Regions from separate parts of the Homo sapiens genome. Here region 1 is linked to region 2. The links come from fine-mapping of genetic effects on gene expression. A gene starts in region 2. The other region holds a variant in brackets. All regions are shown on one strand. Distances are between the middles of the regions. Region 1 has its middle 48 kb from the start of FCN1. Region 2 holds the start of FCN1 (ficolin 1).

What was found. PIP is the estimated chance that this variant, and not a neighbour inherited with it, causes the effect.
Region 1: its variant is the best candidate, but not a certain one, in a credible set for the expression of FCN1 in whole blood (GTEx, PIP 0.82).

Annotation. Positions count from the first base shown.
Region 1 is chr9:134,962,740-134,968,110 of GRCh38, reverse strand. No RefSeq gene overlaps it. Among named protein-coding and RNA genes, the nearest start is that of FCN1, 48 kb to the right of the region's middle. The variant G/C (reference allele first, on the strand shown) is at 3,114.
Region 2 is chr9:134,914,910-134,920,280 of GRCh38, reverse strand. It overlaps FCN1 (ficolin 1), which reads left to right and starts at 2,369. Exons shown (of 9, transcript NM_002003.5): 1 at 2,369-2,512; 2 at 3,820-3,933. The coding sequence starts at 2,410.

The DNA.
Region 1 (5,371 bases), 48 kb before region 2:
TTAAGTAGCACACAATTGCTTTTTGGAAGCAGACCTCGAGGTGGAATAAGATAGCATGTATATGATAGAGGATTGTCCCAATTATATCTCTTCTTCTTCTTCTTCTTTTTTTTTTTTTTTAAGGAAAGGGGACTAGAATGTAGCACTATGGAAAATTAAAATCTTGAGAAAGCAGCATTAGAATAAAATGAGTCTGCTTATGGGCAGCCCTTCCTCCCCCTGATTAATCAGACAGGAGGCTGCTGTGAGCAGGCTGGTTCTGCTGAGGCTGCGCTCTGGGGCTGCAGTGAGAGAGTCCCATGTCCACGCGGGCAGACGCAGCCGCAGATGCCCGAGGAGCCTGGCCTCCTCAGCTGCCCGTTTCCTGCTCTGAGCTGACAGCAACTGCCCACGCCCAGGCCACTGCCTGCTGCTACTGCCTACTGCAGACGCAGACGCACTCCCTCTAAACTGAAGAAGTTCTTTCTCAGGGTTCCTTCTCATGGTCTGAGAAGGCAGCAGTAATAGCGCAGATAGGGGGTCACCTCGGGGAGCCTTATTCTCTCCACCAGGACGAGCTGAGGGTGCACAGGAAGGTCGACTGCCCCTTGGGGGGCAAGTGGCACAGGCACTGCTGAGGGGCACCCGGACGTATCTCCTAAAGCTGAGGACACACGAAGCCCACAGATCAATTGTGAAGCATGAATGTGAAACTGCATGTCTACAGCGGCCTGCGAAGGCACCCCTGTCCGGCGATCCCACGCGGGGCGCTGCCGTGGGACATTCTCCCTCTTTTCATCCGTGCAGCGGCTCTGAGGGGGGCATGGGGCTTGTCCCTGGGTCACCGTTGAGGGACTTGAGGGATGTGGATGGCCCAGTGCCCCCAAGGAGGCTGCGTAATTGGGCAGCATAGCTAGAGGCTTTTCTCAGGATGGCTGCTCTCAGCGTGAGTTGCAAACCCCTTGGGCAACCCCTCTTGCCCCAGTCTGGGCTGGGAGGCACTGGGGGACTCATTTATTGCTTTCACATCAGGTAAGCCCAGCTGCAAAGCTGTTCCCGAGACCAGAACTGCATGTGGCATCTGCAGAGCCCAGAGTCCACCAGCAGCCTTGAAGCACAGAGGAGGGAACTGGCCCGAACATTCAAGAAAGGAGGGCCCAGGGCCACCAGAGGGTAGCAACCAGCCCAGACTTCTGGTGCCACTGCCCACCAATCCCGGCAAGGCCATTGTCCCCCGCCAGGGCTGTGGCTGCTAAATGCAGGGCAGGCATGGGTGAGCTGCAGGCTCCAGGTGGCTGGGATCCCCCTCCTCCTCCTCTCTCCATCCCCCAGAACAAGGTCACAGACTGGACCGTGCTGGCCACCATGGCACACAGGGCCTTCAGGCATCACCCGTGAGTTCCCTTTGTCATGGGAGAAATGGGGGCTTGGAAAAGTGGTTCTTAAATAGGCAGCGGCCTCAGGCTATTAGACACCTGCTCGGCCCACAGGCGCATCAAGACCAACTCCCTAGCGGCCTTTTCAGGACGACCTTGATATCAGCAGGCAGGAGTTCCAGCGAAGGGGAGGACACGCCCACCTGGCTCTGTTAGGCTTGCTGTCTCACCCTCGGTGCATTGGCACCTGGTCTTCTTACCAAGCAACAAACCCATTTTTACCCTCTTTGACTCCAGGCAAACAACCCTGCGTCCAGACAGTTAGGAGGCGAGAAAGGCAAGGGCGGCTCCACCCTGGCATCTCAGCTACCTCCCTAGAGGCTGCGTCAGGAACTGGTCACCATGAGTCTTCCTGCTCATTGTGGAGCCTTTCAAGTTATCAGTGAGAGTCCTTGGATCAGCTCGATTACTTTAGAAACTTTATTTCCCCAGTTTTAAAAGCCATGCGTGTTCATCGTGGAAGGCTGCACAGTAAAGAGAAGCCTGCAGGCCTTCCTTCTTGGCGCATTTGCTGAGAATTTGCTAAGGGCTCTGCTGTGCCCCATGCTGGAGATGCCTGTCCCTGTGGGTTTGGGCCTTGGAGAGGCAATAGTTACAATGACTCACCAAGGCATGTGTCCTTGCAAAGGGATGGCTGAAGGGCTGGGCACGACAGGGAGGCAGGCCTGGTAGCACCAGATCCAGGGGTTTCTCAGATTCTGCTCTGAGTGGACACAGAGGGCAAGCATGGGGGAAGGCTGTGGCTGGCCAGCGTCACCGCCCATCACCTCACAAAGATGGTGTGTTTGTCATCTGCTACCATGCAGCAAATTAACCCAAAACATAGAAGTTTCAACAAGAAACATCTCTTATCTCAGGGTCTGTGGGTCAGGAATTGGGGTGCTTCTGCCCCAGGGTCTCTCATGAAGTTGCAGTCAAGTTGTTGGCCAGGGCAGTATTCATCAGAACGCTCAACTGGGGTGGGAGGAGCTGCTTCCAAGCTGGTGCATTTGGCCATGGGCAGAGGGCTTCAGTCCACACCATGTGGGCCCCTGGTAGGGCTGTTCCTGGGTCTCTGCAATGTGACAACTGGCTTCCCCAAGAGCCAGTGATGCACGAGAGAAAGCAGGAAGAGGCTGCAATGCCAGGCTTGACCAACTCTGAGGCCACACTGTAACCCATCCGGACACCAGGTCCAGCCCACGTTCAAGGGGAAATGAGTTGAACTCCACCTCTTGAAGTGAGGATTACCAAAGAAATGGTAGCCATATCTTAGAATTTCTGTGAAAATCTTTCCATATTTCTCTATGCTGGCTTATGCCTGCAGATATAAATATTTAATTTTTATAAATTGGATGATAGTATACAACCCATGTTGAATCCTGATCTTTTCATTTAAACATGTCAAGGAGAAGGTCTTGCATCTGGAAATGTGGATATGTGTCATTAGTTTTGATATTTTAGGCATTATATTTCAAATAACATGATGCCCTAATAAATGTTTCTTGAGTAAGTGAATAATGGACAAATGCCCGGTGACACCATTAAATGTCTTTAACCCCTCACCTACAGGGAGTTCCAGTTGGATTCAATGCTCAATTATTTTAGAATTTAGATAAATATTGCATGAGAGATGGCTGGTGTTCCAACCACGCTCTCTTCCCCCGGTGCACATGTTTCTCAGGCGGTCCTGTGTGTACTGGAGTCTGGTCAATGGGA[G/C]GTGAGAGGAAGTGCTGTGTTCTGCTTCTGGTCAGCCATAAAACCCCTCATGTGTGGTCCTCACGCTCTCTCCCTCTCTGTCTGCTGAACCAGAGAAGGGTGGTACCATGGAGCAGGCAGGACCTGGATCACAGCATCGCTCTGTGGGTTTCTATGTTGGGAGAAACTGCCGAGGTTTGGGGCTGTCTCTTACAGCAGTAAACACACCAGATCTTTGTGCCTTTGCCTAGGGATCTGAGACATTCTCCCAGGGAACTGGGGGCTGGTTCAAAGGACACATGTATCTTCAGCGTGGATACCTGCCATCAGACTGCCCTCCACACGTGGCCGTTTCTCCTCCCAAGGGCTCTGTGGCGTGGCCTCCAGCTCCTGCAGGCATTCCACAAGCAAAGCAAGAATGTGGACCCCAAAATGTGCTCCCCAGAGCTCAGGTCTTGATGCCACCCCCTCCTTTCCTGGACTGGAAACTGCCTAATATGGGCCAACTGGGTCATCTCAGCTCTCAGTTCTGAAGACATGACTGTCCAAGGAGCTACTCTGTAGTCCCAGAGCGGTGGGCACCCGGAGGCTGCACTGCACATGGGGCCAGGGCTAACTCCTCCCCATCTGGGGCACAGCCACACCCCGTCCTACTGCCCTGTTGCTCCATCCCTCCTCCTCCACTGGGCACTGGGCTCCTGGCAGGCAGCTTCTGTCTTGGCCCAGCTTAGCACACAGTAGGCACCGGAGACATGCACCATGTAAACGAATCAAAACAAGGATGAGTGAGTGAGAGCGTGGCTGACATGCATGTTAGGAGCTGAACCAAGCTGCCCCTCGCCCCAAATTCACATGTTGAAGTCCTCACCCCAGCAGCTTGGAGTCTGTGATCGTATTTGGAGGTAGGATTTTCAGAGAGGTAACTAAGTTAAAATGGGGCCATTAGGGTGGACCTTAATCCAATAGGACTGGTGTCCTTAGGAGAAGGGGTGGTAAAGACATGGACACCCACAGAGAGAGAAGATGGCACCCACAGGCCAGGGAGAGGGGTCTCAGAAGGAACCAGCCCTGCCAGCCCCTTGATCTCAGACTTCCAGCCTCCAGAACCGGGGACAATACATTTCTGGTGTTTAATCCTTCGTCAAACATAACATGCTTCATACAGCCGCTGAGCAGACTCGTATAGGGGGCTCGGTGGCTCGTGACTGGACTAGGGAGGTCTGAGGCCTCAAAGCCAGCAGAGGCCGGGGCCTCTGGGGGTTCCAGCAAGTTCCTGTGATGAGGGTCCGGACACCCGCCCACGACCTCGGCCCCACTCGCTGCTGCGTGGGCTGCCCCTGGCCGCGGTGCCAGCTTCCACCTGCGATCCCCATTTTGTCTCTCAAACCCTGCGGATCTGCCCTCATTAGCTGCTCCGAATCCCATTTTTAGTCCTTTTATTTCCACACCTCTGAAACGTCAGCATCTTTCACTTCATTGCCGGTATGGAGCCCTGGAAGGCCAATTATTCCCCATTTGGAACAAGTTCTCTTCAGCACGAAGAACTTCACATAAAAAGTTATTCATTTTATTTCAGGCAGCTTGGAGAGAAGTCATGCCCTGTGATGAGTTGGAGAGAAAAAAAGGCGCAAGCAACTGCAAGGTCCGTGTGTGTGAACGCCGCATGGATTTGCCTCCAAAGAACACGTGAGCGACCCGCGCTGCGAGCAGTGCCTGGCTCCCGGGGCCCCGCGTGCTGGAGCCGCTGCGGTCACGCCTGGTGCTGTGAGCAGTGCCTGGCTCCTGGGGCCTCGCGTGCTGGAGCCGCTGCCCTCACACCTGGAGTTAAAGACACTGGGGCTGAATTCGGGCTCAGCCACTGTCTGCATGACCAAGGGTAAGTTACTTAACCTCTCTTTGCCTTGGGTTCCCCATCTGTGCCTGTGGCTGAGACCATTTCCATCTCAGATGCATAAAGTGATGAGCACAGTGTCGAGCCCCACAGTCAGCCAACAGCACCGTCATGATCATCCCTGTCTGGGTTGTTCCCTCAGTCAGCCCATGAGGCAGGTGGAAGAGATCTTACTAATTACGCAGAGGAGGAAAGGGGAGCTCAACAATGTTAAGGAGCGGCCGGGCGCGGTGACTCATGGCTGTAATCCCAGCACTTAGGGAGGCCGAGGTGGGTGGCTCACTTGAGGTCAGGGGTTCGAGAACAGCCTGGCCAACATGGCAAAACTCTCTCTCTACTAAAAATGCAAAAACTAGCCGGGTGTGGTGGCGTATGCCTATAATCCCAG
Region 2 (5,371 bases):
TTGAATTTGGTGTTGCTGATGCAAATTTTTTAAATTTCATTTTTAAATTCTTTGAGGCTAGTTTTTAGAAGCACAATTGATTTTTGCTAAACTTTTTATTCTGCTAGTTTATCTGTAGAAACTCTAGAATTTTCTACATCCTCAATCATGTCTTCTGAAAATAACAACTTTGTGTCTGCCTTTCCAATCTTTTTATGGTTTTGTTCTCTTGCCTACTGCACTGGACAGTGACATGCAATACAATGTTGACCACAGTGGTGATGACAAGCATCCTTATTTGTTCTCAGTCTCTGAGGATGGTTTTCCATTTTTCCTGTTAATTATGTTGTAACTTCTGTATCCACAGCTTCCAAAGACCTCTTTCTATATTCTGTTGTTTCTGTTGGTCCTTATACACATTGTCTTTTATTCCCATGAGCCTGGTTATCGTTGATTGTGTTTTAACATTTCATTTGAAAAAAATAAAACACTTTGCAGAAATAATGACCTGGGATGATGTCATTCTCCTTCAGAGAAGATTTTTGTTTCTTTCAGCAAGGAGCCTGGGGGCATGAGCAATAATTCCAGGAGTTGAGATTCCTTTCCTGGGACACTTAGATGTCTCAAAACCAGTTTGCAGCCCTTGTGAATGTTGGTTGTTGCTCACTCATCCTATTGCTAGGGTGCAGCCCTTCTGAAAGCCAACCCCAAACCCATACCTTTGGCAGGCCGTAGGCCCCAGTCTTTGACCTTCAGCTCTGCAAGATGGTGAAATCACTGCCCAACTTCTCACCTCTCTTTTGGAGATTGGCAAATCCCTGTGCAAAAAGAGGTCCCCACTACTAGTTTCACTTCTCTAAGATTTCTGTGGCTCCTGAGAGCTTGGCAAAGTAATCCTTTACTACATAGCTAGCTTGACGGTGCCTTCGAGCAAATCTCTTTTTAAAGGTTTTGTCTGTTTGTCCTTAATAGGATGCCCCCAAATACCTAAACTGCCATTGCCAGGAATCAAATGACTTTTGTTGATCCAATGTTAAGATATTTTAACTTGCCAGAATCTTGCATTCTTTCATACTCTTGGGAACATTGACTTGATATCTGAAGGTGGTGTTGACTTCTCACCTGAAATAAACCTATTGATGTTGCAAGGAAGAGGAGGTCCCCTCACACCCAGGGGGCAGCTGGCAAATGGAATTGAGGGGCACAGACCTGCTGGCTTTCTCCCTGTTCTGACCCAATCCCAGGTGAGTGCTGCTCCTGAATTGGATCCTCTCCAAGAAAGGAGGCCGCACCACTGACACCCAGACCTCTCCCGCCTGGGCCAGTAGCTCAGGGACACTAAGCGGTGTCTGAGGCAATGAAGCCTCCTGCCGTTGTCTCTCAACAGGCTGGAGCCAACACACACAAACACACACAGTCGAGAGTCGTTGTGGTGCCCAGAGAGCCTGGACACAAGGTCCTGTGTCTCCTGGATCCCCCACCCCTGGGCCGCCCCTCCACTTCTCTCCCACCTGGGGAGCCCTTGAGTTTGGAAACCCAGTCTACACACGCTGGCTCAGAGAAGTTGCAAACCACAAAACAACACCTCTCCCTGCTCCTTAGTCCTGCTACCATCTGACTCTCGTTAGTGACTATTTCTATACGTTCTAAAAATCCCGCACAAAGTGTCCACAGCGTGGCCTGGCTAAGCATGATTCACAGCACGAGATGCGGAGTAGGAACATGGCCTCAGGGATTTGGGGGAACAAGAGGCATCCCCACCTTCAGGTGAAATGAGCAATCCCAGTGATCTACAAGGCGTTAGACAGAATTGAGTCCAATGCCTGGCTCTTACTAGTGGAGTGACTTCAATTTCTCCAGCTGTAACTTTCAAATAATTTACTCCACCGAATGGGGCTGGTGCAAGATGATATGATGGAAATAGTATTTGGGACATAACAAGTGCTCAACATTTTTTTCCTCTCCATCCATGATAAGTGCCTGATGACGGACAAACCCTGAATTTTCTGGGAACAGATGAGGCAAGGAAGCGTCTTCAGCAAAACCTTCCTTATCCCCCAAGGTTAAGGTCAAGGTTTCCGAGTATTGCTTGGGGACAGCTGGGGAATGGAAAGGGGGTGTGGGGGCTGTGTTCTCCTTAAGCCACAAGCAAAGCCGATGCTTTCCAGCAGAGGAGTCTCAGGAGCTCTCTGGACTGGGAGCAGGGTGTCTTTGCTGGGGGAAGAGAGCCCAATGGGGTGGGCATCTTGCTGGAGCCTAGTGGAAGGAAACATCCTTTGAGATGACCTCATACCTCCTGTTGGTGCAACTAAGCAGCCCATAGGAAGTGGGTGTCCCCCAGGGAGTTGAGAAACTGTGGCACAAGGCGAGAGCTGGTTTCCTCTGCCCTGTTAGAGCTGGGGGACTCTTCAGAGTCAAAGGCCAGAGAGCATGGAGCTGAGTGGAGCCACCATGGCCCGGGGGCTCGCTGTCCTGCTAGTCTTGTTCCTGCATATCAAGAACCTGCCTGCCCAGGCTGCGGACACATGTCCAGGTGAGACAGACCTGGGTTTTCTGGTCCCTAAAAGCTGGTAACAACCCCACTCACTGACACTCGGGTGTCCCAGGCAAAACCTTTTATGCACATCTTCCTGTGAAGATGCCCAACAGATCTGTTTTATCCTCAGGCAAGGACATGGAGGCTCAGGGCAGCTGAGGCATTGCCCAGGGTCATGGAGGGATAGGGGAGGGATGTCACCAGGTCTGTCTGCCTCGAAAGCCCAGGATTTGCCCATTGGAGCTTCATAGGTGGGTCTGGAATCTGTCACTGAGAAGGAAGAAAATACTGTTGACTTTATCTTCTTACGGGCTTACCAGGGAGGCACTCTAAGACCCTCTAATACGGTGGCTGCCACACGGACTTGGGGGGTTTGTTAAAAAGGCAGATTTCTGGCTCTCCTCCAAGAGAGTCGGAATCAGTTGATAGGGACAAGGGTTTGAACGGTGGTAAGGTGTTTCCCTCACTGATTCAGGAGCAGGTGGTTCTGTGACGCTCAGCAAGAGACTGCTCCTAAGGACGGCCTGGTGCCCCTGGCTGATAACATATTTATGAAGGAAACATAAATAGTAAATTACAGCCTGCTCTAGTGGAAGGAGGACTGGAAACACAGAAAGGAAATACCCCAAAAATGGCAGTGCCATGTCTCCGGTGAGAGCACTGCTCCGTTCCATGGTCTCTAAGAGCGCCCTTAGCAGGGCGTGTAGATTTTGTAATGAACAAAATGAAAAATATTTTTTCAAAGAAGTAAACAACTTTGGTTTGGCTGCAGCTGTGCCACACCTGGCTCTGTGTCCTTGGACCCCACACTGCCCCTCTCCAGAGGACCTAGAAAGCCCCTTCCAGCCCAGTAATTCTACAACCACATTCCCAAGGTCTGGGAGGGAAAATGCTTTGTCAGCCCCAATTCCCCAAGTTTCTTAGAAATATTGATTGTCATTAGTTATTGAAAGTGCCCGCTGTTTATTAAGCTCTTTCTAAATGCCATAAATTACAATAAGAGATTTAAAATGCACATTCTTTAACCAAATCCTGGCCGCAACCTTGTTATTATCCCCGCTTGGCAGCCCAGGGCACAAAGCTCAGAGGAGTTAAGTTACTTGCTGCAGGACACACAGCACTGAGGAGATGGGGCTCCCCTAGGTCGGGGTGGCCTCCAAAGCCAGAGCTCTGCCCCCCATCACATCTCCGCCTCACCAGTGCCTGAGGGGTGAGGACAGACCAAGGCCCCAGCAGAGCAGAAAACCTCACTTCCCAGCCACTGTTGGGCCAGGCACTGAGTGGGCACCTGTGTTTCTCTGCAGAGGTGAAGGTGGTGGGCCTGGAGGGCTCTGACAAGCTCACCATTCTCCGAGGCTGCCCGGGGCTGCCCGGGGCCCCAGGGCCAAAGGGAGAGGCAGGTGTCATTGGAGAGAGAGGTAGGTGCGGGCCGGGTGGGGAGGCCAGGCATGGCAGGGGCACTGGCTCTTGCTCTTTATGAAACTGGATGCAGAGTTGGGCAACACCCCCACCGTGGTTCCTAGATCAAGAGCCTGGGTCAGGCCCCTGCTAGAGCCAGGAACAGAGCTGACTCCCAGGGCCCAACAGGGTTCTGAAATGGAGGGAGGGTCTTTCCTAACTATTTCATGAGCTCACATTTGGACATGCTTCTGTAGCTCTGTCTCCTAGTCCTTGATCCAATACCAGCTTTGCTCAGCTACTGGCACGACTTCTAAGCTCTGTGTCCCTCCACCTTCTCACCTGAAAATTGAGGTGACCGCTTTCTTCTGCACCTGCCTCATATGGGAAAACTGAGACTCAAAGAGGTCACAGGCTTTCCTACTTGACAAACCAGTAAGGAGTGGGGCTGGGACTTGGACTGGTCTACTTCAGGGCACAGAGGGCACCCGAATCCTGAGCCCTGAGCTCTGCATGTGGATTTGCAGGGAACATGGGAGAATGAACAGCAGGCACCTGCCTTGGGTGGTTTTGGGTCCCCCTAAGCATGGCATAAGGCAGACGTGCACAAAAACTCAGAAAGGGCGCTGCCTTAGGGGGTGAGCTCCCCATGCCTGGACGCATTCAAGATGATGCCTGCGGAGCACTTGGTGGGGATGTCCCAGTGTAGATGGGACAAGCTCAAATGTCCCTATGACTTGGACTTTCACTGACGTGTCTAGGCTTCCGTGTGGGTGTCCGGGGCCAGGTCCTCTGTGCCCACTCCGCAGGCTGGACCTGAGAGTGCGGTCCCGATCCCCTGCTGAGGGAACACTGGGGAGGAAGACCTTCCCTGGCAGGAGAAGAATCAAGTCTGGCTCAGACTTCCCTTGAACCAGGCTTCTACCAGTGGGCATGGCTGGCTAATATACCCTAAAGCAAGAACCAGCCCCCATACACTCTCCCCAGCCACTGGGGTCAGCGAGCGGGCTGGGGGCTGCCTCTTGGCTGGCATCGGGGACGGGAGGGTCACCTTTCTGGCCAGAACCACGTGGAGCGCTGTGTGACACCCCAGGAGCTCAGGCGCACGGTGGAACCGGATCCTCCCTGGCAGCAGCGGCTGCACGTGGCGCCCACCCTCTCCGTGTGGGGACGTGGTAGGATGAGGCTCTCTGAGGACGCATTCTTTGTTCCAGAACCTGGTCCCTTGCTAGGCAGTAGAGCTCTGTGTGGGTGACTTGGGTCCAGGCTTATGGTCAACAGAGTGTGAAACCCAGGTTGCTCCCAAGGCACAAACAGGAGCAAGGTGCACCTTGCCTTGAGCCCAAGGTGGGGTGCAGGCCCCTCCCTCAATCCCTCACCTCCATCTGCAGTCACCCCCAGGCTAAATCCATGGCTAGCAATTCTGAGAGCTCCTGGAACCAGAAGGGGTTCAAGGCA